Regions from separate parts of the Homo sapiens genome. Here regions 1, 3, 4 and 5 are each linked to region 2. Evidence: fine-mapped expression QTL. A gene starts in region 2. Each other region holds a variant in brackets. All regions are shown on one strand. Distances are between the middles of the regions.

Evidence for each region. PIP is the estimated chance that this variant, and not a neighbour inherited with it, causes the effect.
Region 1: its variant is the best candidate, but not a certain one, in a credible set for the expression of WDFY4 in whole blood (INTERVAL, PIP 0.70).
Region 3: its variant is the best candidate, but not a certain one, in a credible set for the expression of WDFY4 in whole blood (TOPMed, PIP 0.50).
Region 4: its variant is the best candidate, but not a certain one, in a credible set for the expression of WDFY4 in lung (GTEx, PIP 0.57).
Region 5: its variant is the best candidate, but not a certain one, in a credible set for the expression of WDFY4 in whole blood (INTERVAL, PIP 0.84).

Annotation. Positions count from the first base shown.
Region 1 is chr10:48,777,705-48,783,760 of GRCh38, reverse strand. WDFY4 (WDFY family member 4) reads right to left here. Exons shown (of 62, transcript NM_001394531.1): 18 at 4,929-5,150; 19 at 3,642-3,820. Among named protein-coding and RNA genes, the nearest start is that of WDFY4, 96 kb to the right of the region's middle. The variant C/T (reference allele first, on the strand shown) is at 2,531.
Region 2 is chr10:48,682,254-48,688,309 of GRCh38, reverse strand. WDFY4 (WDFY family member 4) reads right to left here and starts at 3,437. Exons shown (of 62, transcript NM_001394531.1): 1 at 3,309-3,437. RefSeq lists enhancers at 2,647-3,187, 3,206-3,505, 4,436-4,515 and a silencer at 4,166-4,215.
Region 3 is chr10:48,710,814-48,716,869 of GRCh38, reverse strand. The region is part of intron 2 of WDFY4 (WDFY family member 4); the gene reads right to left. Among named protein-coding and RNA genes, the nearest start is that of WDFY4, 29 kb to the right of the region's middle. The variant C/G (reference allele first, on the strand shown) is at 2,503.
Region 4 is chr10:48,816,099-48,822,154 of GRCh38, reverse strand. WDFY4 (WDFY family member 4) reads right to left here. Exons shown (of 62, transcript NM_001394531.1): 32 at 4,746-4,910; 33 at 1,718-1,921; 34 at 979-1,093. Among named protein-coding and RNA genes, the nearest start is that of LRRC18, 120 kb to the left of the region's middle. The variant T/C (reference allele first, on the strand shown) is at 2,866.
Region 5 is chr10:48,719,611-48,725,406 of GRCh38, reverse strand. WDFY4 (WDFY family member 4) reads right to left here. Exons shown (of 62, transcript NM_001394531.1): 3 at 5,282-5,396; 4 at 4,040-4,146; 5 at 1,840-1,974. Among named protein-coding and RNA genes, the nearest start is that of WDFY4, 38 kb to the right of the region's middle. The variant A/G (reference allele first, on the strand shown) is at 2,480.

The DNA of each region.
Region 1 (6,056 bases), 95 kb before region 2:
ACCATATAGCCTAAGTGTTAGGTTAAATGAGAGGTTAAATGAACTAAGCAGTATACAAGATTTTCTATACTTCGAGGCCACACTATTTTTTAAAGGGATAAAACTGAAATTACAAAATATGATAAAGTAGTAGGAGGGTAGCTAATCTTTTCTCTATTTTTGAGCTATTTCAAAATGCATTTATATTATTCTTATAATTACTATAAAATCACTATATATAAGATATATACATTTGATATATACATCTTTGATTTTATACATAAGATATATACATAAGATATATACAATTGTACATATATAAATATGTACAATTGGCCCTGCATATCTGGGGGTTCCATATCCTTGGATTCAATCAACTTTGGCTCAAAAATATTCAGGAAAAAGAACAATAAAAAATAGTGCTATAACAATAAAAAATACAAATAAAAAAATACAGTATGACAACTATTTATGTAGCATTCACATTGTATTAGGTATTATAAATCATCTAGAGCTTAGTTAAGCATGCAGGAGGGTATGCATCTATTATTTGCAAATACTACACCATTTTATTTAAGGGACTTGAGTATCCATGCAGTTTGGTATCCAGGAAGGGTCCTGGAGCCAATCCCCTGAGGAAACTGAGGGATGACTGTATTTTTCTAAATGAGAGTTTACAGAATTTCAGAAATATTCTTTTTCACTCTACCAATTAAGTGAGATTTTCAAATAAAAACAAACCAATTGTTCAGCCATCAAGGCTTGCCAGGAGTATGATTTTCTGTGCTCTCTTATCTCTCTGTTCTCGCAGGCACAGAGTCCTCCTCTCTCTCCCACACTGAAGCACCACTCACCCCTCCAACCCACCTTGCTCCTGTCTTCCAAATTCCCAGTGTATGCACACTGCCCCATTCAGGTTGCCTAATAAATGTCTAATGTCTCATATCGTTCCCAAATCATTTTGCCCAATTCAAACTATTAAAATGCTCCATATCTTTACAAATTTATGTAAGTTTCCTTTGGCAATAAAAACAAAGGCTCAGCATTTTGAGAAGGGCTGTTAAACTAGTCAAATTAAGCTGAAGTTCTCACATCTTACTCTTGTCCAACAGATGTTTGCATCAAAACACAGGCCTTTATGTTTATCTTGGTTGAGTTTCACTTGCTGGTCCTGACCCAACTTGTTGAGATTATTTTGGAAAGCGCACTCTGTCAGTCTTGGCTTTGGCCACTCCATATAGCAACACACCACTCCTGACCTCCCTGTTGATGGCCCTAGGCTTAGCAGGTCCCGCAGGGAGGATGTTAATGCCTGTACCACTTCACCCAACCACACTAGCAGCCAGTCATGTTCCTCCTGTGGCTGCACATTCAATTCAGTTCATCAAGTGTTTATTCCATGCTTACTGTGTGTCAGCCCCTGCGCCAAGTTCAAGGAAGGTACAAACATCAATAAGACATGCCTCAAGGTATTTGAAGTATTTCACAAAATATCAACATATTCTGTGAAAGAAGACAAGAACAAGTGAACTCAGTAATTGAGCCTAAACAGATAAAAACAAAGATATTGCAACCACAAAAGACACCACACATCCCATCCCAACTAATGTGAGGGACTTCTGCTTCCTCTCTAATGATAAGTCCAGCCCTGTTCCGTGTCTCTACCTTCTGGATAAAAGTTATTAACATTCACAGTCACCAAATTGCACCTCTTTCCAGCAGCACCCAATTCAGAACAGACAGACCTCCACTTCTTTAAACCCTTTTAAAAATCACCTAAAATGAATCTAGTTTCTGTAACAAGCCACTCCTAACTCCTTACTACCCCATGGGATAGGAAATCTCTTGCTATAGTCAGTTTAAATCTAATTTTTATTTTATACTATATGTATGTTCCTGGAGGTCTTTGGCTTATAAGCATAAATAATTCTTAGAACCTAAAACAATTCTTAGCACCTTATACTATATGTATGTTCCTGGAGGTCTTTAGCTTATAGGCATAAACAATTCTTAGCACCTAAAATATTAGCTAACACATAACAGGTGCTCAATAAATATTTAATGAGGAAAAGAAGAAAGAGAGAAAGGGAAGGAGGGAGGACTGATATTGTTAATAATTGCAGAAAAGGTTAACTATGTTTTGAAGGACCTGTTCTTTCAATGCCCCTGTCAAAATCTTTCTGGTCAGCCAGGCGCAGTGGCTCACACCTGTTATCCCAGCACTTTGGGAGGGCAAGGCAGGTGGATCGCCTGAGGTCAGGAGTTTCAGACCAGCCTGGCCAGCCTGGTGAAACCCCGTCTCTACTAAAAATACAAAAATTAGTGGGCATGGTGGTGGGCGCTTGTAATCCCACCTAGTCAGGAGGTTGAGAAAGGAGAATCGCTTGAATCCTGGAGGCAGTGGTTGCGGAGAGCTGAGATCGCACCATTGCACTCCAGCCTGGGCGACAAGAGCGAAATCCTATCTCAAAAAAACATATATATATATACACACACACACACATATATATATATACACACACACACATATATATATACACACACACACACA[C/T]ATATATATATATTTGGTCATCACTGCCTTTTTTTGATAACAGAACTTTACCAGCAGATGGTATCAAATTCACCTATATGTGTCCCACAGAATTTGGGACTAAGAATTTGTTCTCATCTGATGACTCTTAACCTGGAACAACTTTGACCCCCAGGGTATATTTGGAAATGTCTGGAGATGTTACTGGTGGTCACAACTGGGCAAGGTCAGGGGAGGAACACTATGGCATTTAGGGGGAATCCAGAAACCCTGTGTATGTAAGGTTCTCCATTCTGGCTGCATATTAGAATCACCTAGAAAATTTTACAAACATTAGTAAGTTGTCAAATTACCTGACCCAGAGAGATTCTGATGTAATTATTCTGGGTGCAGCCTGTGCAAGAGAACTTTAAAAAGCCTTTGCAGGTGATTTTAAAATGCAGCCAGCTTGGGATGCTCTCCCTGGAACTTGTGTGAAAATCCAGCCCTACCTGCCTTCTATGGTCCTCCGGGCCCTCTCTTCTCTGACAATGGCTGCTGGCGCCTGCCAGCTCCACCTTTTCCCAGCTTTCTCTTATACCTGGGGTGTCTCTAAATGACAGCCATGAGATGCTTCCTCCAGCTATACATTTGCATTCTATTACCTTCCTCATGGTTCTTGCTCTAAATCTGACGACACGTGTTGGTGTCTGCCCACTCTAGTGTCCTGCTCCTCCGTGTGGTGCAAAGATGAGCTGCGTTGGCCTCACCTGGGAGCTTCTTGGAAAAGTCATACCTTAGGCCCTGCCCAGACCTCCCTGAGGAGTTTGCCCCTCAAAATGAGAAGCTTTGCTTTGTTCATTCTGGAGTTTTCTATTTTCATGAACATGACTATTCTTAGAGACCTGGATGCATGTCTTGCCTTCTGCCCTGGTAGCGTGACCTTCAATGCATTTTCTAAAGATGTCCTTTTCATGTCTGAACTCAGCCAAGTTTCCTGAACAGTAAGGCAGATTTCATTAGATGCCAACCCTACCAGTAATAAACAAACAAACAAACAACAACAAAAACATAGAATGAAACCGAGGCCACTTCAGGGTAGTAGCAGGAGGTATGGTTGTGGGGCAAGTGCAGCTTGGAGGAGCCATCTCACCTTGGCAGAGCCAATGACCTGTCCATCCAGACAGGTGGAAACTGTACAATGCCTTTTCATTTCCTTAGTGACAACCACAGCCAAGTGATGCCACTGACCACAAGCCAGGAGCTGGCCACACCTGACCTGAAGCTGGCATCCTGCAGAAGGCTCGGAGTCATCCTCAGGTTCCATGACATCTGGAAGACAGCATGAACACTGAGTCTCACGTGTGGTGCTACACTGCAGGAACCCAGGAGAATGGGGAGGGCATAGGCGGACGTCAACCACTGGGCCTTGTACCATGGAGCCCTAGATCCTCCTCTCATGAAAAATGACAACAGCAGCAGCAATAGCAGCAGTCATTCTTTGAGCTCTTCCTTTGTGCCAGTTTTAAGCATGTTACAAATATCAACTCATGTCATGTTCACAGCCCTGTGAGGTAGGCGCTCATACATGCCCAATTTACCATCCTGAGGCACAGAGAGGTTGGGTGACTTGCCCAAGGTCATACAGCCAGGATTCAAACCCAGAAGCCAGGCTTCAGGTCTATCCCAAGGTAGACTACCTCCACAGAGACTCCATTGTAGGCCGAGTCCCAGAGAGTTGGATAGGCAGTTGTGCTGTGTACAAGGGTGTCAGCCGCTTCCACTGTTTCATAGGGCCTCCCAATGTTTTTCCCTATGAAACAGTGACACTCTCAGGACACAGGAGAAGAACAAGTGGACAGAATCCACTGGACTTGACCATCTCAGGCAAATGAGCCTGGAGAACAACGCTGGGCTCCAAAGGGCAGAGCCAGGGCTGGCCTCTAGCACTGCCAAAGGAGGGGTGGCCCTGGGCGCCATGCCAAGCATGGGCCAGCCTTCTGGGTTTGGGGTTGAGCATATGTGGGAGCGCCTATATGTCTGTAGCTGCTTCGGCTCCAGCTAAATTGTGTGTGTTCTTCACAAACCTCACTCAGGAGAGGATGCAGCCTGTGTCCCAGCAAGGCAAAGCCCTGGGTCCCATTGTGACTGTTCTGCCAGGGCGAAGTTTCTGAAAAGCCACTGAGCATCATCTCTGAAGCTGTGCCAAGGGCTGGGGCCTCATCTGCCTGACACTTACAAGCCTAGAGCCCAGGCCACAGTGAACCACAACAAATATTGTAGACCTTTCACCAGGTATGGAACCCAAGGGAGCAATTTCAAAGGATGAGGAGAAACAGAAGGTCACCAGGTTTCTAACCACACCTGTGTTGAGAGCTTCTGACTTAGCCCCATTTCCCCCACATGTGGATGAAACTGGCTTTGGATCCCAGCACCTTACCCAGAGGCTGAAACTCCTTCTCTTCTGTAGAAACAACCAAGGAGAGGTCGTCTGGGCAGAGGCTGACGGAGAAGCAAACAAAGGGTTGCTCAGTCCTGGCCAGGTGGCGCACCAACGTCAGGAAGCGCAGCGGGTGGCCCTCAGTGGCAGCTCCATGCCGGCTGATCAGGAACCAGCAGGAGAAGGTCAGACCTCCAGGAGGAGGGAACGGTCTGGTGGCACCTGGGTGGGAACACAGGCATGCCCTCAGGCTTTGTTCTGCCCTGCTGAGCATGCATGTTCAGATTCACTATGGTGCTGATTTAGCCCAGGTGCAGCACCTACTGGGTGTCTTGCCTAATCACCAGTTGTCTCCTCCCCATTATGGCATGCTGCCTTGCCAAGGGAGCAGAGAAGATCTCGATCTCCCTGAGGTCCGTCACACGTGGGCTCCTGGTCAGCTGATCTATAGCCAGGCAGTGTGCTCTGTGGGGCAGAGGACCTTGGCCTAGCTCAGCTGAACCTTGGATAGGAAAGGGCACCAATCTAGGAATGCCATGTGCCCTCCCATCACATAACAGGGTTGGCGATATAGACAGGTCCATTGTCCTCACAGAACAGGCAGGATCAGCTGCTGTGTCCTCAGACTTGGTGCCAACTCACATGGAAAAACGTCATGAAGGCAATGGCTCCCCAGCACCCATGATCCCATAGAAACCCCAAACCCAATTCTCCTAACAGAGCGTGTGGCTCAGGCAGCATCAGGCACTTGCACTGTCCCACCCAGCGTGTTTTCAGCTAAGTGCAGTGCTGTGCATAGAAGCCACTTGCCAAAGATTGGTCTATTCTCAACGGCCATCAGCCCAACTCATATTTCTCTCTAGAGAGAGATCTAAGGCAGGTAATGTGTCCATCTCAGCCTACATCAGTCACCAGCGAAATGAGCCAATTTTTCAATGTCAATTGAGTCCCTAGCTATAGGCTGGACCCTTGGGATGCACAATGAACAGAACATCTTGCTCTAAAAGAGGAGCAAAGTTGAAGAACAACTCATCTGCAGATACTCAGGACCAAGGCAAGACTCATGTTTGCTTTTCTTTTTTTGAAACTGGGTCTTACACTGTAGCCCAGGTTGGAGTGCAGTGGTTC
Region 2 (6,056 bases):
GAGTAAAATACCAAGAATTCTCAAGACAGGATGGAAGAAGAAAAGAATGGGGAGGCTCTTTCCAGATACCGAAATTTATTATAAACCTGTGGTTAACAATGTTGTCTAGCATTGTCAAAGGGTTAGACAAATTGACAGAATAGAGAACCAGGAAAGACCCCCATGCACATGACAACTCAACTCACAACAGAGCTATCATGGATCAGTGACTAAAGAATGGCCTATTAGGCCGGGTGTGGTGGCTCATGCCTGTAATCCCAGCACTTTGGGAGGCCGAGGTGGGTGGATCACCTGAGGTCAGGAGTTCAAGACCAGCCTGACCAACACAGTGAAACCCCATCCCTACTAAAAAACCCAAAAATTAGACAGATGTGGTGGCGCACGCCAGTAGTCCCAGCTACTGGAGAGGCTGAGGCAGAGGAATCGCTTGAACCTGGGAGGTGGAGGTTGCAGTGAGCTGAGATCGCACCACCGCACTCCAGCCTGGGTGACAGAACAAGAATCTGTCTCAAAAAAAAAAAAAAAAAATTAGCCAGGTGTGGTGGCATGTACCTGTAATCTCAGCTACTAGGGAGGCTGAGGCAGGATAATTGCTTGAACCTGGGAGGTGGAGGTTGCAGTGAGCCAAGATCATGCCATTGCACTCCAGCCTGGGTGACAGAGCAAGACTCCATCTCAAAAAAAAAAAAAAAAAAAAAGAATGGCCTATTAAATAAATGGTGCCAAGACTCTTGGTTATCCATATGGGAAAAGCAGAATAAAATAAAGTTTCTTCCCACCTCACGCCATACACAAAAGCCATTTCCAGGCAGACTAGAGACTTCAGTGTAAAAAGTAATATTATAACATTTTTTGAAAATAATATGAGAATAATTTTACAACCTTATAGTGGAGAATTTCTTAGATAACACATAACAAGTATAAATCATAAAGCGACAGGTGGATAAACTTATTTGAAACTAAGAAATTCAGTCATTAATAAAAACCACAGGAATATAAGGAGACAAGGCACCAACAAATGAAAAATATTTGTTATATATATAAATGACAAAAAGTAGTACCCAGAATATGTATTGAATTATGGCAAATCAATAGGATAAAAGACAGGTAACCCGATGAGAAATGGCCAAAAAATGTGAACAGGAAAAGGGACCCCAAATGGCCAATAAACATATGAAAAAGATGTCCAACCTTAGTAATTTGGTCAATGCAAATTAAAAACATGCTAAGATAGCTTTTCATTTCTACCAGATTGGCAGAAATACAGTACCAGACAATATCAAATGCTGATGAAGAAGTGGAGCAACAGAAACTTTGGTGCATTGCTGAGGGGTGGGTAAAATGAGGCAAAAACTTTGGAAAACAACGTGGTGACATCCAGTAAGGCTGACGATATGTACAACCTATGACCCACCAATTCTATTTCTAGAGTATATACCCAAGATAAATTCTTGCACACATGCCCCAAGATGCATGTACAAAAATAGTTCTAGCGGCACTGCTTATAATAGAAAAAAAAATAAACTCTTGAAATACCTAAAATGCCATCAACAGCATCTCAGATAAATATATTGAGGTACACTCATCTAATAGAATACTGTACTGCAGAAAACTTTAATTATCTACAGGTACATGCAACAATATGAAGAAATTTCAGAAACAAACTTTTGAACCAATTAGGCAAATTTTAAAAGAATATTTAATTCCATGTTTACAGAGTTCAACAACTTGCAATCATACATATATAGCGATTTAAATATGGGATGTAAAATTAGAAAAAGAAGCAAGGGAACAATAAACCCAAAATTCTGGACTGTTGCTGCTTCTGAAGAGGGAAGGTGAAAGATGGGCATGAAGAGGACCTCAGAGATGATGCTGATCTTTAAAAAAATCTAAGGTGTCAGCACACAGGGTTTATGCTGTTTTTATTACTTCTATCTTATTATGGTCTTTCTAAATTTTCTTTTCTTTCCTTCTTTTTTTTTTTTTTTTTTGGAGATGGAGTTTCATCGTGTTGTCCAGACTGGTCTTGAACTCCTGACCTCAGGTGATCTGCCCCTCTCAGCCTCCCAAAGTGCTGAGATTACAGGCGTGAACCACTGCGCCTGGCCGAAATTTTCTTTTCTTTCAACACAGAAAATCTTTCCAAGTTCATGAAAGAATAGCCCATGTGCTCAGGATGGACAGACAGGAAGGGCCTCCCTGACCTGACCCTGTTCCCTACCTCTCTGGCCAGAACCCCAGGCATGCCCCTTACCCGGCTCTGCCACACCAACCTCCACGAGGTCTCCTCCTCCAGACCCTTATCAAGAACACTTCTCAGAAACCCACAGGACTCGGCCTCCCTCACAGGTCCCCTCTCAGAAGACTAGAGCCATCCCCACCCTCCCAAGACCCCCACCCTACCTGCTATTCTCCCACCTGCTGAGCACCGTAGACCCCTGTCCGCTTTGACCAGAGCCTGGCAGGGCGTGGTTTCTCAATACCTATTTGTTAAATAACTAAATGAATGACTATACATAAACTCATATTAAAATTAGTGTGCTCCATGGAAAGGGTAATGCATAGAGCCCTTAGTTATCAAACCAGCCCCCCCACACTTTAGATGAGTTGGGACAAAGGATCGGTTTAGTGTTCTAGAAGTTTCATTTCAGGGGAAAAGAAGAATCAGTCCTTACTGAGCAGGTGGCCCTGCTTAGGCAGAAAATGCAGGCGTTTCAATGGTTTGCTGTAATAATTCAGATGAGGGAAGTGAGCCCAGGGAGGCACCTACTTACCAGAACCCAGTGGAGTAATGACAGGGCCGGGATAGACCAGCTCCCTCTGAGGCCCGTTGGAAATGGCCCTCCAACTCTGCACTCCTCAGAGGCCTATGAGGGAGCTTGGAGGGCGAGCCTCACTGTCCTGTCGGCCTGCTCTCTCCGCCCCCTCGACAACCAGGAAAGCCCGTGTCAGCCCTTCCCAGGGTTCCCTTCATAGCAGGACCCCGAGAAAGGACTTGACCTACCGTCAGAGGTCGAGGAGTGCTGCTGGAGCCCAGCCTGACTCCCAAACTTCAGCAGTGACACACACTCAGGCAGACCCAGGCCCTGGAGTGGCCCTGACCACATGGGCCCCCCACGCCACACACACTTCCTGCTCCCCAGCTCACCTCCTCTCCCACATTCACAAACCCAAACCAGGCACTGGGTCACATGTGCCCCATAGTCAGCCTCCCAGGAGGCAGCCAGTAGGCCCCACGCTGACAGGCGGCGCCCATATGCCCACCTCTAGGCTGGCCTGGCTGGGCCAAGAGCAAGGTGGCCTACCTGGAGGGGTGGCCGTCAGCGCCTGTAGACATCAGAAGGCATGGGCCCCCTATCCCCAGCTGCAGCCCCTCAGGCTCGGGGGAAGAGGACCCGGCCCCACATCGTCAGTCCTCAGCGCCGTTTCACTCTGAATCACTGGAGCTGGGTCTCTGCTCATTTCCTGGAGAAAGCAGAAGTGGAGAGCCGGCAGATGCCTGACTCTGCCCACTCTCCAGCCGACCACGGAGCTGCTGGAGTTCTGGCGGGTGACTTGGGTTCTGCAGCAAGGCCCCTTGGGGCTGGCTGTGCAGCCTCCGTGGTCAAGCGGTGCTGGTTGGGGCCAAGGACAAAATGGAAAGTACAGCCCAGCCCTAGAAGAGTAGGTCTGGATTCTGTGTCCCCTCTTCACTAGCCGTGTGACCACTGGTGCACACCTCTCCTCTCTGGGCCTCTGGCAAAATGAGAACAATGATGGTGTTAGGTGAATCTAATCAGAGGTGTGTTTAAGTGCACCCCTGGACATGGCATGGGTTGGGCAGCCCTCACCCCACCAAGCTCAGAGTTGCCCACTTGGATTTCTTCCTCCCCCATCCTCAGATAGAACTTGAACCACCAATGAGGGGAGTCCTCCTGCGGCCAACACTGAGGCAAGGATGAGAGGACATCTAAAACCATAGAATGGAAGTCTCTGAAACTCAGACTCCAAATTCTCATTCCTCTGAGTATATAAACTAGGCTGAATTATCCATGTCACCTATCCATAACGTCATCTCCACAGTACAAACAAGCATGTCCATTCACACACAATCCTGCTTGTGCTCTGTAAAAGGAGAATTTTGCCAAAGAGCAAGGGCACTTGTTAGCGCTAATGCCTGATCCTTGATCCTCAGTGCAGCTCATCGCTTGTCTCTAGCTCACAAAACCAGTGGACCATGCATGACTGACTGAGAGGCAGCAACAACATCACTTGTTATGACATGGAGTAAAGCTCCAAGATTGGTTTAAAGAGGAAAATAACATTTGTCACAAAACCTCAACCTCCACCAGTGCAAACTTGTCAGTAGACAGCAGCCAAAATAGGAGATCTATCCAGCTGCACTCCAGTCTGGACAGCAAGAGCGAAGCTCCGTCTCAAAAAAAAAAAAAAGAAAAAAAAGAAAAGAAAAGAGAAATTGAAAGGATACATGCAGTGCCAGCCAAGGGAAAGAGAAAACCTTAGAGAATTTGCAGTGAAGTGTTTGTTGTATATGATGAAAACCCCTCGTCATTGTCACCAATGAAATCATAAATAAAATCTACAAGAAGATATTGCCTGAAATCAGAGGCCTATGGTAAGAGCGGATTAGACAGAGGAACTTCCACAGAGGCAGGAAGGGTGGCCAGCATGGGACAGGCCAGGACCCCATGCCTGTGAATGCCCAGAGGAAGCGCGGAGAGTCTGTCATAGTGGGATCTCGCAAAGTCTGCTGGAGGGCCCACCTGCACCCAGGTCTCCTACCTTCTACCCACCCCAGCACCTTGCCGGGTAGCCAGCAGCAGGCAGGTAAAGAGCACTAAATTCAGAGCTAGAAACTCAAGGTTGAAATTCTCACTATCTTAACTGAGATAATTGACATCTTATTTGCAGAATGAATGAATGCCTTGTTAGAAGGAACAAATCAAATAATATTTGCAAGAGAGGTTTTTTTTTTTTGAGACGGAGTCTCGCTGTCGCCCAGGCTGGAGTGCAGTGACGCGATCTCGGCTCACTGCAGGCTCCGCCCCCCGGGGTTCACGCCATTCTCCTGCCTCAGCCTCCTGAGTAGCTGGGACTACAGGCGCCCACCACCTCGCCTGGCTAATTTTTTGTATTTTTAGTAGAGACGGGGTTTCACCGTGTTAGACAGGATGGTCTCGATCTCCCGACCTCGTGATCCGCCCATCTCGGCCTCCCAGAGTGCTGGGATTACAGGCGTAAGCCAGCGCACCCGGCCAAGAGAGTTTTTAAATACTGAAAAGGGCTGTGCAAATGCAAGCTATTATTAGTGAGAGAGTTGCCAAAGCTAAGACACTGAAGCAGCCAGGGCAACTATGAACTGCTAATGTAAATGTGTATTTTTGTTAAAGGGCAATGTAAGATTCTCTGATTTTTAAACAATTGCCCCAAAATGGCAGTTTTACTTCTGCACCCAGTTATGGTGGTGTAACTGGTATAGGACATACCCTCCCATTGAAAGCAACTATAGAATAGTTCAAATACACAAGATAATTGTTTTCAGGCATTGAATAGCAAGACTGTGATCCTTGAGATAAGGAAAACACACAAGGTGAGCCCCACAATTGCCCTGGAGTTTTTTCTAGTGATGCTTTTTCTGCTATGATGCAGGCAGGTGGGGCCCCAGAGACAGTAGTCTCCCTGAACTGAAAAGGTTTAAGTCAGAGTTCAAAGCTGCTGAAGGCTCTGGTATGTTCAGGGCAGGTTCCTGAGGAGAGTGTGCCTTGTGGGAACTCATTGTGTGTGCCCTTGGCCAAGGATTCCTATGTGTGCACAGGGTGAGACTCCAAGAGACCCAGCAGAGGTCAACTGACCCAAGGCCGAGCACTGAAGGAGGTAACAGAGAATGTGCAGTGCTTGGAATGTTGCAGTCGCATCCCATGGAGTGTGGAGAGACCTTGCTGAGCATTGTGGGACTTCACTTTACACCTCAGAGCCCTCACCCCACCAAGCTCAGAGCTGCCCTCTTGTATTCCTTCCTCCCCAATCCGCAGACCAAACTTGAAACACCAATC
Region 3 (6,056 bases), 29 kb before region 2:
CCCTCCCTAGAAATGAGAACGCTGCTACGATGTATTTCTAACAAATCCCTGCAACTCCTCCCTGCACTGACAAACCCCTCAAAGACCAATTTGCAGGCATTTGACTCAGAAGCATCTATATCGTCTCTGGAGCAGTGGGACTCCAGGAGGCACTCCACAATAAAGCAAATTGGGCCACTGTGAGCTGAACAGTAATTGTACTCTGAGCCAGATCTCCCAAGGCCCAGACTCCTTCCTGGGACCTCGATGGGCACTTCTGGAAGCTGCGTTAACTCTTTCAGGCCACCGGGGTGCTGTTTGATGCACAGAGCCAATCATTTACTAAATGGTACCATGGGGACCCCAAAGAGTTAAGGCAGCTTCCAAAAGGCCCTAATTTTTTCCCAAACTGGGACTTACATGCTGGGAGAATATTGCTCAATATTTTAAAAAACTTTTATTTGCTAACATTATCTAAGCTGCACCATCGTGCCTCATGGCTGTCCCTTCACATGGAAGAAAGAGAAAGAAAATGATGCTCTGGTCTCCAAAGGAAAATAAAGAATGGCTAAGCTCTAGGGGAGATGAGAGGAAAAACCCAGCTTTTGAATGACAAAGAGAACATGGTTGGTATTCCAGCACGAACAAAATGTCATTATTACTCCATTACTGCAGAGTTTGGCAGGTTTGTCTTTAAGTGAGCTCAAAACATTTCTGAGACTTTGCATGAAGTTTCCCTGCGAGTGTGATGCAGTAGACCCTCTCCTCTGTTGAAAAAAAAATGGCGCATCAAAACTTTGCTAAAAAGTGTTATTTCCCGAAGATGGGAATAAACCATGTTGCAGGTCCCACTCCAAGATGGGGTAGAGTCAGGAGTGGACAAAGAGGAGGGCTTACCCTTACTGTCCCCTCAGGACACCACATCTAAAAATAATTGTTGGTGGCCGGGCGCGGTGGCTCACACCTGTAAACCCAGCACTTTGGGAGGCCGAGGCAGGTGGATCACAAGGTCAGGAGACTGAGACCATCCTGGCTAACATGGTGAAACCCCGTCTCTACTAAAAATACAAAAAAAAAAAAAAGAAAAGAAAAGAAAAATTAGCCAGGAGTGGTGGCCGGCGCCTGTAGTCCCAGCTACTCAGGAGGCTGAGGCAGGAGAATGGCATGAATCTGGGAGGCGGAGCTTGCAGTGAGCCGAGATCGGGCCACTGCACTCCACCTGGGAGACAGAGTGAGACTCCCTCTCAAAAAATAAAAAAAATAAAAAAATAATTCTTGGTCATCTTTGCTATTGTATTTAATGGTGTTTATCTTTCTTCAACTATCAGTTAGATCCACACTTGGTTTTTACAAGAATGATCAATCATACTCAACATCACAAACTCTGCACCATTGGCTTAGTAGTCAGCCTAGGAATGTGCACATATGCACACACACAAACACCAAAATACACTCACCTCTAAATACAACTAAGTTAGTGTTCATTTCAATCCCTTCATACTAGGAAATGGATGTATTCCTTCTTATGTTACCCACTTTTCCAGTTACCTGTTGTGCATGACAAAACACCCCTAAATTCAGTGGCTTAAAATAATAGCAATCATTTATTTTGCTCATGGATCTGCAATGTGGGCAGGGCTCAGCAGGGACACCTTTTCTGTGCTCCATTCTGCTAGGGCAGCTAATGGGAGCTAAGAGATCCACTTCCAAGATTGTGGGTGTGCTCACAGGGCTGACAAGATGGTGCTGGCAGTCAGCAGCAAGTGCAGCCTCAAGGTCAGGGCCTTGGATCCTCTCCACACAGGTGTTCACTCAGAACTACTTGGGCTTCCTTACAACATGGCAGCTAGACTCTAGGAGTGAGTATGCCAAGTGAGAGGCAGAAGAAGCTGTGAGCCTCTTGAGGCCTATGCTTGGAAATGTCTCTTCTGCCTTGTCCCATTAGCCCAGTTGATACAAATCCATCTAGATTCAAGGGGAAGGGATAAAGATCCCACCTCTTGAAGGGAGGAGTGTGAGCCCATTCACAGCACCTCTAATCTACCACATCCACATATTTCCCTTTTCTCCAATGTGGTCCCACCTCCCAAGTTGTCTATCTCAGACACTGATAGATTTTGCATTAATTGCTGAGGATTCTCTATTTTACTTTCTGCTTTCTCTCAAAGTCCACATTCTATGAATAAACCTCATTGGCTACTTCTGTAGCTCTAGATTTCCCCATTTCTATTATTACAGGATATCTCTGTGCAAAATGAGGACCTCAAGTGATTTTCTTCCCCCAAAACCAGCACCTTCCCATGATTGCTAGAAGAACACCTTCTTCCCTTGGTGTGAGACCATACGATGGGAAAGGTTCTGAAAAGACCAAACCCCAAGGCTCTTGGCAGGAAAAGAACAACAGCCTATTGAGTCTTTCTTAAAAACACTACTCTGCACACCACAGAAGTCATTGGCTCTGTGTTGCTTCCATGTGATGAAATAAAACTTCCTCCTTATCTGCAACATCCTACAGTCAGCAAT[C/G]TAAACATCCTATGTGTGGGGGAGACATTCTTTTTGAGCCCAAGGAAAAGGCAAGGTCTTAGCCAGGCAAAGCCATTGTCCAGTGAGTCATGAAATAAGGAAAGACAAACCAGACCTGCTTTATCCTAGAAACCCCAGCACTGAGCAAGGACATCCAGTGGTTAATAATGCAGACCTACAGCAGACTGCCCTGGTGACATTCTGCTACCAGCTGACAATTGGGTGACTTTGGCCAAGTTATGCAACATCCCTAAGCCTCTCTTTCCTCATTTATAAAGCTGGGATAAAAATACTACCTACATCACAGCGTTATTGTGAGGACATGTAAACACTGAACAGAATGTCTGGCTAGCTAGTTAGAACCTGTAGGATATTACCTAGCTATCATCAGTGAAAGCAACTGCTCACCTGGGCATCAGGGTGCCTGAGTTTAAGTCTTGGCTCTGCCCCTTGCTAGTATTGGAACCTAGGGCATCATTTCATCTCTTAGTCTCATTTCTAATATACAGGTTGCTTAGCACAGGTCAAAGAAAGAATAGGGTGATATTAAAAAGAAATAAAAGAAAAGGGGTAGAGGCTAGGTTGGAAGGATCTGACCCTAGATCAGGACTGAAACATCCTTCACCTTGCCCTGGCTAAGAACTCTTTGACCTAACAAGAGGAGTGAGGAACCCTAGGTGAGGAGGGAGCCTGCTGTTCTGGATGAGAATCCCATTTCTCACTCCTCCCCTCAGGGAAGCTCCCTTTTTGGGTTCCAGTTTGTTGAGATCCCATTAGGCTCTTCCTTATTACCTAGACAATAGCCAAAATGTTGACTGGGTTAGCACCCCTGCAGCCACTCTTCAACTCAAGAGGCAGTGGGGCTGGGATTCACTGTACCACAAACCAAGCCCACCTTTGTACTTGCCTAGCAGTTACTGCAGATTCAAGTATAAACAAAGACAGGGATAGAGGAAAGTTCAGTGCTCGTGTTTGAAGGAGTCAGATATGGAAGAAAACCAAACAGGCTAACGGGAAGTTCTTTTCTGGGAAGAAGATGCCAAAGAAGTAGCTCTGAGGGAGTCTGATGCACAAGACAATGCCCATTGTCAAATCTCAAGACTCACAAGTTTGAAGCTACCAGGTGACAGCAACTTAGGAGAGGCACACACAGCTGTCAACCTGATTCACCCAGCCCCAACTACAACATAGATCACCGCTTCCATGCAGAGTCTGACCGACAAAGAGGCTGGGGGTCAGTCAGACAAGACCCCACACCCTAGGGACATGGCCTTTCCGAGCAGAAGTGACAATTCAAAATCCCTTGTGTGCATTGCTTTGGAACAAAGAATATTCCAAATAATCTTAATTAATTTTCTTTGGGCCAAAATGAAGAGTCAGGTATAGAGTTGAGCTCCATCACACATGGGAGTTCAGGACTCTTTGTTTGTACTCAGGAGTCTCAGAGCCCAGGCAGAGTATGATTTCCATGACAACCAATACATGTATAAGGCTTTGATGTTAACAGCCACATTCCGGGAGAAGTGGCATAACATTTTAGGTTCTGTTATTTCCAAGGGGGAACTTCATGGAAAACCTTAAAGAACACTGCTTTGTGGTTATAAAATTCAGAACAGAGTGGTTACAAGCTTATCTTCTTACACAAGGGCCTATATTCCAGTAAATGTTCTCATGCTTCATCTCAGGTTAGATTTGATCTGCACTACACCTGAGAAAAATCTCCCATCTTCCCCACCTTTCTTTCCACCACCAACTATTAATTAAGAAGGCTGAGCACTCTGGCTCTGGCAGGGTTTTATTAGTCCGTCAGAATGTAATAGAAACCATGTTTCATAGGCATGTAGGACTTAATAAAATAATACAGATATTAAGAAAATTATGAGAAGCCTATAATATTCTGCCTCTGCAGGGTTTGCCAGAGGTGGGTTCCAGGGATCCAGAGTAGCAGATTGTGTCAGCAGTTTAGGGAATCCTGGCGACAGGAATCTCAAAGGCTTCAGTCCATGTGCAGTAAGTACACTGGAGGCTGGTGGAAAAGTAATGGGAATAATGTCTACTTTCCATGAGCTGTGGACTTTATAATCATTGTCTTGTCTTACCCTCATGGTTTCTCATTGAAATGCTATTAATTCTACTTTATGGATAACTGAGGTTCAGCAATAGTTGGTAACTTGCTCAACAGCACACAACTAATAAATAAGTGATGCAGCCAGGACTTGAGCCTTGATCTGTTTGACTAGAAAGCCCACATGTTCAACAACAGGGTCATTATGCCTCCAATTATAGGGACAGGGTGTGGAAAACAAAGACCAGTATCAAGGTTCACTTATAATAGTAACACTTAAATATGGAGTCACAAGCTCACATGCCTGTACGGTGACATAACATTCATTAGTAATATGGGTTGGGTGAAAGATGTTGGAGTGAGCTCCGAGGTTAGCTGGGGAACCCCATAACCCCTCCCATACAACCGTCAGTATTAGATCTACCAAAATTTTCAAGATAAATTAGAAATCTGATTTTCATATGAAAACTTTCCATTTTGAAAAAAAATGGCCACTAGTTCATTCTGAACCCCTGCAGGCCAAATGAAATACACAGTGTGCTATTCGATGCCGTCTGCTCTGGGCCACACTCACCATGAGGGTGGTGTGTCACCTCTGTCTTCTTTACTCCTATATTTCAGGCCTTAGAGCAGAGTATAGGAGCTTAATAAATATTGGTGCAACAAACAAATGAACTCTCAAATAAACATCAGGGAGGTGAAGAAGAATCAAGTCCTGGCTCTTGGGTGCAGTCCTTTCATCAGAGCCCGGGCTGCCCATGCAGGTGGGAAAAGTGTCACCGAGAACTAGCAGCTCAGTAATGGCTGAACTCATCCCCATTGCCAGTGACTTGCACTGGGGGCTGGGGACTGCTCACATTGTCCCTTCCATAAGGCAAAGTTGATCTGGGAACTGGGGTAAGACTGTCGCACCTCCCAGAATCTGGGGCTGTCAGGGCAGGCAGGGCTAGGGCTGAGAATCTTTAGCTATCTTTACTAATCTAGCCCTAGTTATGCAGTCTGTGAAATGAGATGAATGGGACTACAAGTCCAAAACATGGAGGAAAATGATGAATTAATGGACAGTGAGTTACTTGGCAACTGTTTAATGCTAAGTATGGAATGCATCCTATAAACGTGTTCCCAACAAGATTCTAAGTAATCTTTGGAAACCCTTAAATATTTCTGATGAATAAGTTAGAGGAAATATATTCACAAAGGCATTTAGCAGTGAAAACATGCCAAAGCCTCCATCTGCCATAGTCTACTTTCAAACGTGAAAAGTAGCTCTTGTTCTCTCTGCTTTGAATATTTTGTAGGTATACGCTTTTCAAAAATAACCCCAAATCCATAGTCAAGTAAACACTAAGTCCTTATAAAAAGTGCTTTCAATGCTACAACTAGACTTCAACTATAAGGCAGACCTCACTGGCAGGAGTATTGCTCCCAGATAACAAAGGAAATCCCTTGCAGCCAAGCTGTCACCAGCTGCCACTAGCTAGAGTGCAGA
Region 4 (6,056 bases), 130 kb before region 2:
CAAGCAAGGTGAAGCATTTCTTCCTGTGGCTTTTTGGAGGAGGATGGGGGAGAATGTGCTGCTTGAGACAAATGAGCAGGCATCATGATGACCAGGGGCCCTGCTGCTACACTAGGCAGAGGATAAAGCCATACTGTCATTATCCATCTATGCTCACCAACACAGCAGGTACTGTGCTCAGCCATGTGTGTGATGATCTCAACTAACCCCTAGCACAACCCTGTGAGTTCACCACGACTGTCGTCCTTACTCACAGGTCCAGGCACCTGACTAGGGTCGCATGACTGTCCAGTGGCAGAGCCAAGTCCAGAACTGGGATTGCCAAACCCACACTTCACCACCCTGCTACTCTCCTGCATTCCAGTCTCTCCATGAGAAGGATCATGAAGTCAGGGCTTCTGAGTAGGAGGCAAGGAGAAGTCCAGAGTAGGACTCATGTTCCTAGGGATTCCTGTGGCTTGGGAACCACAGAAAAGGCTTTTGTTTAGGCTTGTTGAAAAGGTACAGCTGCCCTGGAACCAAGTTTTTTGAATGAACCTTCAATTTTAAGCTCTGAAGGGGCATGGCAGCATCTTCATCCAGGTTCATTGTTTAAGAAACATCAGCTGTGCACCTATCCCGTACCCAGGCAGAATGCTGAGCACGGAAGGTTAAATTGTGGTATCTTGGTTTCCCTTATGGGAAGAGGTTGCATTTCTACTGAGGCTACAGGAGAGCCGATTTTTGCTTAGAGGCAAAAGGGCTTTCTGTCTGTAAGTGGCACAGCATGACAAGGGTGTCATGGAAAGTAGCAAGCACCCCTCCACTGGGCCCCAAGGCAGGAGCCAGGGAGTTCTTGTTGATGATGCCTGGAGGGACTGACGCCAGGTGGAGGCAGCATCCCACAGCTAGGGTCAGTTCCTGGCCAGCATGCTGGTTTCCTCTCCACTGTCAGCAGCCTCATGTCATGAATGGAGGGGACCGAGTTGCCCCACTCACCTCTGAACATCGCTGCATCACCTCCACTTGTCATGTGGAATAGTTCCATAGCAGAAAGCAGGACCTCGGACTGGAAGTCTCGCTTCTGTTGGCTGGTGGCGTGGTCTGGAGAAGCCTGGAAGCACAGCCCGGGACTGAGACAGCAACCACAGGGCCATCGTGTGCACCCAGTGCCCACCGCCTCCCTAGCCTGGCTGGGACACTTATGCCGCATCTGCCAGCAGTGTGGGCTGCTCACAATTTTCCCTTCTCTGGGGGCCCACCCTCTGTGACTGAGCTGCCTCATCCAGGAAGCAACGCCCACTTCCGAGGGTAAGGAGGCAAGTCAGGGGAGCCCACAGCCCACGGCCACCTGTCAGGTGCCACAGGTGGGGCCGGCCCTGGGAGGCAGAGAGCACCCCAGAACCCCCCTTGGGCCAGGCTCCAGCTGGGACCACCTCTGGGCTAGCTTCACCTCCTGCCCCTCTGCTTCCCTCCCTGCTTCTCCTGAGAACACCGCCTCCAACCCACTGGCCAATAACTCACTTCCACAAAACTCCCACCTCAGGCTCTGCTTCTAGGGACTCTGTGCTCACTCCTCTATCACCTGTTGCTTTTTTGGGGCCCATGGTTCACAGATTCCCCTTCACTCGCTGTGGCCCCCAGGCCCTCTGTCTCCCTGGGTGCATCCTGCCCTTGCAGTGCCGGTATGCCGGCAGCCTCCACAGCACATGGCCCAATGTCACCTTTTCCAACCCACCTCCAGGAGCACCTCCAGGGGCAGCCACTGCTTGGGGCTGGAGGCTCCAAGCAGGAGCTCCCTCAAGAGGAGCTGCGTGAACTCCCTCAGCTTCCTCCGGGCGGGATGTGCCTTGGTGGGAGCCTGGAGACCCTCCACTGTGCTGTCGCCTTCAGCTGCGGCCTCAGGACTGCTGGTGTTCCGGGTGGACTCAGCCCCAACCCCCTCAAAGACAAGAGAACCCCAACATGAGTGGCCTGCCCTGCCTCAAGCTCTTTCCCACCAACCTGTGCCATGTACATGGGCGGATTATTGTCATGCCCAGTGACATGTACGGAAATTGAGGCTCCGCACAGGAAAGCAACTTGCCCAGGATCCAGCTGCTCATAAAGTGGCCTGCTACTGTTTGAGAATATGAGATGCCAAGTGTTGTGCAAAGAAGCTAAACCACAGAGTCAGAGAGGCCTGCAGTGTTCATGATGAACTCCAGAATGTGCCAGGAGCAAGCTGCTTCACATCTCCAAGCCACAGCTCCCCATCGGTTAAATAGAGACAATAAAAACCATCTGACACCGGATCTGGGAGAATGACATGAGAGAATAACGAACGTGGCAATGCCCAGCCCCTGGTAGACAGTCAGAGAGAGTCGGTGCCCATCTTGTGATGGGGACCCCACCTCTACCTCCTGCCCAGTCTCTGCTGATGCCCACAGACAGGCTCCTCAGGCAAGAACGGTGGAGAAGTGGGACTCCAAAGAGTTCTTTCCTCTAATTTCTGAAGCACTTTGGCATCCACTATTTTGTTTTATATTTATAAAATGTTGGGAGATCAACGAGACAGGGGTCATTACCCCAGATACGTCCAGGAGGACACAGAGATGCTGGAGGCTGAATGACTCACCCAAGGACACGCGGCCAGGGACTCCTGACTCCCAGCCCGTGAACTTCTCCTGCGCATTCATCTGTTAGCACCTCCCTTTGCTCATTCATAAAATTAATGCGGCCGTTCTTAATTAAGCCATAAAATGAATTTAATGGCACCTAGGGAGGTAGTGACTGCATTAATTAGCTCCGTGCGGCCTTGATTGGAAAGATGCCATATAAATTCACAGCAAATCCAAGCCTTTGGCCACCAGCCTTCTGCATGAAGAGGGTCTGGCATGTTTTCTA[T/C]ACAACAAAGGCCTTGGCAGAGCTGACTTGGAGCGCTGAAAAAGGCAAGGATGGCTGGGAGGTACACCTTGGAATTAGAGCCAGGAGCCCCAAGACAAAAGCCCGACCTCGCCCGCGATCAGCTGGGGATGTGACTCTGGGCCAGACCCTCCCCTGGGCAGGAACTGCTGACCATGGGGAGCAGGAGCCCTGGGTCAGAGTGTGCACCTGGGCTGCTGGCGGGGGCACTCGGCTGGAGCCCCGACTCAGCAGATGGCGAGCCTGGCCCTTGGGCATGGGGGCTGAGCTGGGCATCTGGGTAGAGAATGTTAGGCCGCTGGACCCCTGCAGAAAACCTGCCCAGGGAAGTGTCGAGGGGGAGCCTGTAGGCTCGCCCTTGATCTCTCCCTGGCCAGGCTGCCTGCGCCTCTGGCTGTGGGTCCTATCCCACCTCTCTCCTGCAAACAACGCTGCATTCCTTCACTCTTGTTTGCTTTTTTATCTTACTTTTTTAGTAAGTTACTTGATATGAATTCATCAAACTATTTCAAAACTATGTTATCTTTTTGTGAAACTTCTGGTCTTTATATTTAGTCTTTTTATTAAAACTACTTTTAAAGTTTATTTGGCCATTTAATTTTATTTTAAACTGACTGTAATGAAAAGGACAAGGCTTTGGGGTAAGAGTGAGATTTAAACTTTGGCTCCGTCTCTTGTTAATCGCATGAAGTTCAGTACATTTCATTCTTGCAATCAATCTGGGAGATGGGTTTTGTGACCCTCAGTGAGCCTGGAGGAAACTGGTGAGTGCCACTTTGCCTCTCTGAATCTCAGCTTCCCCTCTCAGACACCACCTTCATCAGGTGGCAATTCAGGTTTTCTAAAGCACCAGTTTCAGGAGATGGAGGCTGCCGCCATGGGTATGCTTCTGGAAAAGATTAGCTAAGAGAGCATGTTGCTCATTCATTTGGGCACTTAGCAAATGTTTATGGAGCAACCACTCCAGGCCTGGCATCACACTTGGCATGGATTATAAACCCCCCTATGTAGCATTGCTCACCTTTCAAATATGCTCCTTTAGCTACAGTTGGCAACTTGCAGGAAGACACGGTTAGCTCACTTGCCCTCACTGGGTCTCCACTTCCTAATCCACCAGAGTGGGGGTGGTTGTGTGAATTTCTGCCCTTCCTTCTTCCATACCTGACCTTCTTCTTTAGTCCTCACCTCCTTCTCGCTTCCCAGCTCCCAGGAGGTCTTAGCCTACCTGAGTCCCACACGGCCCTGACCCAGCCAAGCTTTGACCTGCTGGGCCTAGCTGGAGGCCTCAAACTCACATGTCTTCCCATAGCCCCTTCTCTAACCCCCAGAGCATAAGACCCAAGACCTCATCCTTAAATCAGGCTCTGCCCTCCCCTTGGCTTGTCTGGCTCTAAGCTGGGCCTCTGCAAACCCACTGCCTAGAAGGGCACACAAGTCATGGCCCAGGGGCCTGCAAGTTGGATGAGGGTTCCCAAGAGCAAAAGTTTTTGCAGGATGCACTCCCAGGACTGCCCTCCCCCATGTGGTGCACAGCAGCAGACTTCCTGGAATGGGAGTCACTGTCTCCCCTTGTCAGTGCCTGTGTATGCCACAGACAATGGACTTTATCTGCCATTAGACTTCTCATTACTGAGATTCTTAACAGCTCAAAAAAATTATTGAATCTCAGAGCTGAAAATGACCTCAAGGTGTATCTCAGCCAAAAAAGGATGGTTATCCAAGCTGCTTATTCAATGTTCCGCTCAAGTTGCCTTAAAATGTATTTTAATTTTAGGGGGGAGGGGAGGGATTTTGCCCTTTGCCCTTGAAGGATGATGATGCTCACAACTGCTCTCTCTGGGTGGGACAGCAGCATGTCCTACCTTTTGGGCTCCCAGGGGGAAGGCGGCTATGGCCAAGGTCTGGAGGAACTCCGGGGCTCGCCACGCTGGGTCCTGGGGGTAGGTGCGGTGGACGAGGCTGAGGAACTGCAGCACGCTGGCCGGGAAGGTCTGTGCCCAGGCACCATCCTCAGAACCTGCCAGGGGCTGAGGCACACTTGGTGAGAGGTAGTGCAGGGCAGCATGATGGGCGCTGCCTCCCTAACCAGAGGAGCTGAGGTCTAGGGAGAAGATTCCTTCCTGAGACTTTCAACAAGATACATTATTTAAGACTGCAGATTAGCACCAGACACTAGTGTCCAATTGAGGAAGGGTTTAATATGTGCAGACGTTGTAAGGGCTTCATACATATGCCTCTTCTCACCCCACAACAACCCTCTGAAGTAGGTTCTATGTTTACCCCTAGCCTTTTTCTCTTATCTTTTAAGTTTCTGCCTTTTATTTTTGATACTTGTCTACTGTATTGGGTAGATGATGCTTTCCTGACACAGATCTTGATTGTACCAAACTCACTGAGTAACTTTGTTATTGTTGTATATACATACATGTTAGATCTTAGAAGTCTGAGTCTTGTTTTTCACCAAGTCTAAAATTCACATCTTTAATATAGAAATTTAACCTTTTTATGTTTGCTGTTATGACATACATGTTTGGTCTTATATTTTTACTTCTCTCAGCATATTACATATTTTCTTTGTTTTAAATGCTTGCATGTGATTCCTTTTGTTTGCTTTATTTTGAATAACATTAATTGATTAAACAGGTAACAGATTCCTTATGCTCCATACAGAAAATATACATCTTTTCAGGTACCCCTAAATTAATTGCTCATTAGGCCTACAATAAAACCATGAATAAATTTCTTGAAGATGAAAAATATACAGATCACATGATCTGAGCAGGGCCAAAACATAACTAGAAATAGAGAACAAAAGTTTAAAAACCAAAAATCTTCACCACATGGACATTAGAAAATGTGAATCAAAGAGAGCTTTAACACTACAGTCACAGAAATTCCAGAACATAACAAAAAATGAAGACGCCAAAATCAAAATCTTAGAAATTGACAGAAATAAAATCAGGAGACTGATAAATGTACCCAAGAGCTGGTTATTTATATAAATCCACAAGCCTTCAACTCCTAAGTCACAAGAGAGTCCAAGAAGGAGAAAGCAGGACACAAACTGAGAATACGAAGGGAGAAACAATCACACAGAAAATGACATGAGTTAAAGGAGACCATTTGTGCAAATTAAATGAATGGGAAATTATTTTAAAATATTAATTAACTAA
Region 5 (5,796 bases), 37 kb before region 2:
AACAGAGGGACTTGCAAAACCTCCCTCTCCACTTGGGATAAAATCCCACCACCGTAGCATGGCCCATAGCATCCTGCATGGACTAGCACTGCCTTCTCACTCACTTTATCCACTGCAGCTCCCCCCTGGGCTCTTGGGGGTCCAACAGGACCTGCTGCCAGTGTGACAAATATCACAAGCTACTTCCATGGGAAGACATTTTCCCCTTCTAGTCTGATACAGAGAGAAGCTGGGCTTCATGGACCACAGCTGTAGGTCCCATTTCCCTGCCTCCCTTGCAGGTAGCTGTGGCCATGTGACCAAGGTCTCACCTGTCCCTGGGCTTGCATTGCCATTTCTCTGCTCCTCTCCACTTCCTCCACCCCACCCGGCCACACTACCTCCTCAGACCCTGACAACCCTCAGCTCTCTGGTTAAATGCCATGCCCTCAGAATAGACTCCACTGATTTCTCTCATACAAATAAAAGCCTGTCACCATCATTGCCCAGTATACCTTTGGCTTTACCTACATAGCACTTAAAAAATTGCTAACTACTGCACTCCAGCCTGGGCAACAGAGAAAAGCCCCATCTCTATTTTTTTAATTGCTAACAACACACTTATTCCTGGATTGTTTTCCCCTTGTTTGACTTCTTCATCCTTCTGTCACCTCTCAAAGTGAAGCCCTATGCTTGCTGCAGCAACCATCTGTCTGCCATAGAGCTGCGCACAGTAGGGGCTCTGTATATTTTTGTGAAATGAAGTAACAGAAACCCTTGAGCAATGCAGGAATGGTCTATTCCCTGTGGCACACATTCTGTCCACATACCCAGAAGACCTCGAAGACAGACCCTGCACTACTTCCCTTCAGGGCACCTAAAAGCCACACAGTAAACATTTGTGAAAGTGCCTGGTGCAGCGTCCTGGCCTCCAATTAGAATATGATTTACATACAAGCAGATGACACCTACATTTCCACAAATGCAGCTCAGAGGGTAACCCACTGTTAATGGAACCTGCCAGAACTCATGCACTACCCTCTGGAAATGAGGAATGGGCTTGGGAATTCGTCTAATGTGGATGCCAATGTGGACATGTGTGTACCATGGACAGCTGCATTTGGGAATTCACTGAACAGTCACAGGCACCTGCTCTGTGTGAGACACTGCAGACACTGGACACACAGCGACGGGCCCCACAGTCCTCTGTATCCTCCCGGGCCACACGATCCTCCATACCGTCCCCTGCAAGCTCAGGGAGCAGGAAGGGTTATCTAGAGAGCTCAGAGTCTCAGAAGGTGAGAAAGCAGAAACTGCCCGGAAGTGGGCAGGGGAAGGAGGTGAGAAGTTAGTCAGTCAAAGAGAAGAGGAAAGATGGGGAATGACAGAAGGAAATTGCATTTGATGCTTAGAGGCCTGAGATGTCTTCTGAGAGGAAGGAAGAGGCACCGAGAACATGTAAACTCAAGTTTACTCAAGGGTGCCAATCCCAGCCCCACCCAAGACTTCTATGACCCCAGACCCCATGCTCACTCACCATGCCTCAGTTTGTATGGACCCAGGATGACAACACTATTTACATCCTGTGATGGCAGACAGCAATCCTGGAGGTGACCCATGTGAGGCCATGGCACAGGGGTGGGTACAAAGCTTATATTTAGAAAATTTTGGCTACTATTTTGCTAGTGGGGCAGACTGTGCAGTGGTGGGGAGGGGAGGGGGAGGTTAGACCCTCTGGGAGAACAGAGGAGTTCAGGAACCAGGGCTGAGAAAGACAAAAGCATCTACGGGAAGCATTGGAGAGTCTGTCCCCGAAGTGAGGTTTTGACCCAGGGAATTGGAGGCCCTCCTTGAACTCACCTGCACGAACATCTTTTGAACTTGAAGATCACTCTCAAGAAGCTCATCTTTGTCCAGAGGAAAGACAAAGAAGAGGTAAAGGCACTGTAGGAGCAGGGCTGGAAGCCCAGACTCAGCAACCCTGCCCAGCGTCTCCTGCAAGAGAAGAGCACACGTGACCCCAGGCAGCAAGGCAGCAGAAGCAGGTCAGCCCAGACCCAGGATCAGGCCCCTGCAGCCATTTCAGTGAGGCCATGGGACAGTCCCTCTGGGCTCCAGTCCTCAAGTGTGAAATGCTGACAACCAGAGGATGCACCTAGGGTGGCTGTGAAGATTAAGTTTATATAAAGTGCTTACTATGTGCTCTATAGCTCCTTTATAAGATTCATAGATGGAAGGAAGGAAGGGAGGGAGAGAGGGAGGGAGAGAGGGAGGGAGGGAGGGTGGAAAGGAGGGAAAAGGGGAGGGACTGTAGAAATTAGAACATAAGGGCTTCCTAACAAATCATACTGTGTGACTGTGGTCCAGGGCCTCATGATTAGGAAGGGAAAGCAGTCCAGAGGTGAGGCTGATAATATGTGTGTGAGCAACAATGGTGAGGACCTGATCAGGCCCCTCCCCAACCTCTCATCTAGATCCCAGACAGATCTCGTCAAGGTCC[A/G]AAGAGTGCAATAGGTGATGACTGACAATCAGACAGCCAGCAACTCAACTAAACAGCTCAGGGCTGCCAGACAGAGGCCAAGAGGACAGGAACTCTGCAGAGATGGAGACCAGCCTGCCAGGAGCTTCCTGGGGTCTTTCTTCCTGGGGCTTTGCCTGCAGCTCCACCAGGATTACTGCACCTGCACCCTCTGTGTGTGCGTGTGTGCGCACGCACGTGTGTGTGTGTGCATGATGCATGTGTGCATGTGTGTGTGCACGTGTGTGTGTGCATGCACACATGTGAACACCTTTGGGGTCAACCTATGGAATGCTGTCCATGCAACTTCCCATTCCACTGGTTAACCTGACAGACATGTTGGGGAAGTCAGAGAAAGAGAAGGACGAATGTACAGTCTGGGCCAGGATCAGGACTAGATGCAGGCTGCTGGTCCTAGCCTTGGCCAGAAAGGTTTACAGTGCAATGTACTGTCTTCTATGTATTTGACTCCTTGTTAACCTTGACCTCCTCAGGGCAGCTCTCCCTGTCCTTCCCCCACCTCACCCCCGATGCACCATGCACAGGCAGTGAAAAACAAGCCCTTAGGTTAAAGTGTCACCACTTAGACTGCAGAGAGTCCTTCCCCCAGGGGCACATGTGATGCGCCCTCGTGCTGTGCTTCAGGTCGCTGTGCCTGACAGTGATGCAGGCAGTTCACCTGAAGAAGTGTCAGGAGGTCCTCCCTTCAGTTAACTTCCCAGGTCATGTACCACCCCCTGGCCCCAGACAAGGGCTGCGTGATGTGCTCCTATCACCCTTCCAAGCACGGCTGCAAATGCCCATCTCATGTCTGGGTTCATCTAGTGAAGCAGCTTTGGAACTGGCTAGCAGGTAGAAGCTGGAAGAATTTGGAGAAGTTACACTGAGGGCAGCAGCCACCCAGGTTCCCTGCTGTGTTCCTGGCATGCGGTGGGTATGGGTGGGAAGGGAAGAAAGAGGAGAGCCCTCATCTCTGGGCGAGGGCGAGACAGGTACCTACAGGGAATGTCGTTCAGGCTGACTCTAACAGGAAGAAATAAAGAACAGTGGCTCAGAGCATGGGTTCTAGAATCAGATAGACTGCAGGTGCACAGCGTAGGTAAGCCTGCGTTCTCATCACTCACTGGCATCACCAAGATCTGACTCATAGGGTCCTTGGGAGGATTAACTGACGATGTCTGGGACACACCCAGCCTTGCCCCACAGGTAGGAAGTAGTCAATAAACATCAGCCGTTATCAATCCTACACTAACCCCAGAAGAGAGGCATTATTATCCCCAATCCTAAAATTAGAAATGCAACCAAGGGGCAGAAAGGTAAAGCAATCTGGCCACAGTTACACACAGCTTGTCAACTGGGAAGGTGGGAATTTCAGACTCTGAAGTCCATGTTCTACACCAGAAGGGGAGGAGGGAGGAGAAATAATAAACCTGTTTTATGAAACGAATGACCCTCTTGGGATATGCCACCACCCTGTGCTGGACCTCCCTCTGCACCTAGATGAGCAGTGCCCAGGGCAGAGGCTGATGGTCTGAAACTTACCGAGTCTGTCCCCGTGAGCACGTACACTGACTTCAGGAGCAAGTAGCCATCCTGATCCACGTCCCCCTTCCACCACAGCAACTGTCCAGCTGCCAACCGAGCTTGCTCTGGAAGAAAGTGTCACCAGCAGGGCATACAGCGACCTGCCCACTCAGCTTCCCCTCCATCCAGGGCCCCCTCTTCCCAGGAGATGTGCCTGAGCATCTGTAGAGGACTTTGGCATCTTGCCTACACATCCCCAAGGCCACCTGCATCTCTACCAAACGCTCCACACCCTGCCAGACTAATCTCCTTGGAAGACAGCGTTTTTTGTGCCACCGTCCCCGTTTAGCAACCATCAGTGGTTCCTGATTGCCAATGAGTAAGAACAAGCTAATCGGCTATCAGACTCCCCACAATCCAGAATCTCCCCCTACTTCCTGGATCACACAGTCTCTTATGCTGCAAGAATTCCTGAAATCTACACCATGCTGAGCAATTTCTTCCCCTCAGAATTTCCTCCTGACCCTCGGCCCTCAGCCACTGTGAAATTCTGCCCTGCCTCCAGGGACCAGCGCACATGAGGGGAAGAATGCAAGTCAGGAGGCCCCACAAGAGATGCACTTTGGCCTCTGTGTCTTTTCAGGACCAAGAGCTCCACTGAACACACAGGTGCATCTTCAATCCTAGCACTTCCTCCCAGAGACCGTGGTCCCGTGTGTTCTGTGTGTGTGTCTGTGTTGCAGTGTGTCTGTGTGTGTGTGCCTATGTGTATATCTGTGTGTAGTGTGTTCTGGGTGTGTCTGCATGTGTAGAGTGTGTGTCTGTGTGTAGTTTCTGTGAGTAGTCTCTGTATGTGTCTGTGTGTAGTGTGTATGTCTGTGTGTGTAGTGTATGTGTATGTGTCTCTGTATCTCTGTGTGTCTATGTGTATCTGTGTATAATGTCTGTGTGTAGTGTCTGTGTGTGTATAGCATCTGTGTGTAGTGTGTCTATGTGTGTCCGTGTATAATGTATTATGTGCAGTGTGTGTGTTTGTCTATGTCTGTGTCCCAGGAACAGCAGGGCTCCCCGACCCCTCTTCCCTCCTCCTGCATTTCCCTTGGTCCCTAAGGCACTCAGTGGCAGAGTGGGGCCTACTTCTCTTTGGCAGGCAACACTGTAGCTCCACGCGAAAGCAGAGGGGGGCCTGAGAGGCCTGGGAGGGCATGCAGGGCTGCACTGCTCTCTGTAGAGGGTCTGCCAGCACCTCCATGCTCTTACCCGCAGGCTTCCCCACAAGGGCCTTCTGGAGTTGCTGGGCAAGCTGGTCAGACACGTCTTCAGCCAGCCTTTGGAGACTGGGAAAGCAGATGATCCCCACGGAGTGTTCCCAGGCCTGAAGCAACAGATGGGACTTGGTCAGAGATAGCAATGCCACAAGCAGGGCATGAGCACTGCCTGCCATGCCACCCTTCACCAGCCCAAGCTGACAGCTCGACTTCCTTTCCCAGGTGCATGCAAAAGGCCACCACGTCACCCACCCTCACAGCCTCAACCATCATCCCTATACCAACGCCTCCAGATTCTCTAACTGCTCAGACATCCACCTGAACACGAGCCCCTAAGATGTCAAACACACAGAGCCCAGTCCACCGCCTTCCCCACAGCCTGCTGCATCTGGCGTCGGTGGATGGCCCTGCCAGGTGCCTGCTGCCCCCATAGGAGCACCAGGAGTGCCTCTCCAGGTTTCTCCCTTCCTCAGCCCTCACCCAGCCCCTCCTGTTTCTCCTCATTTA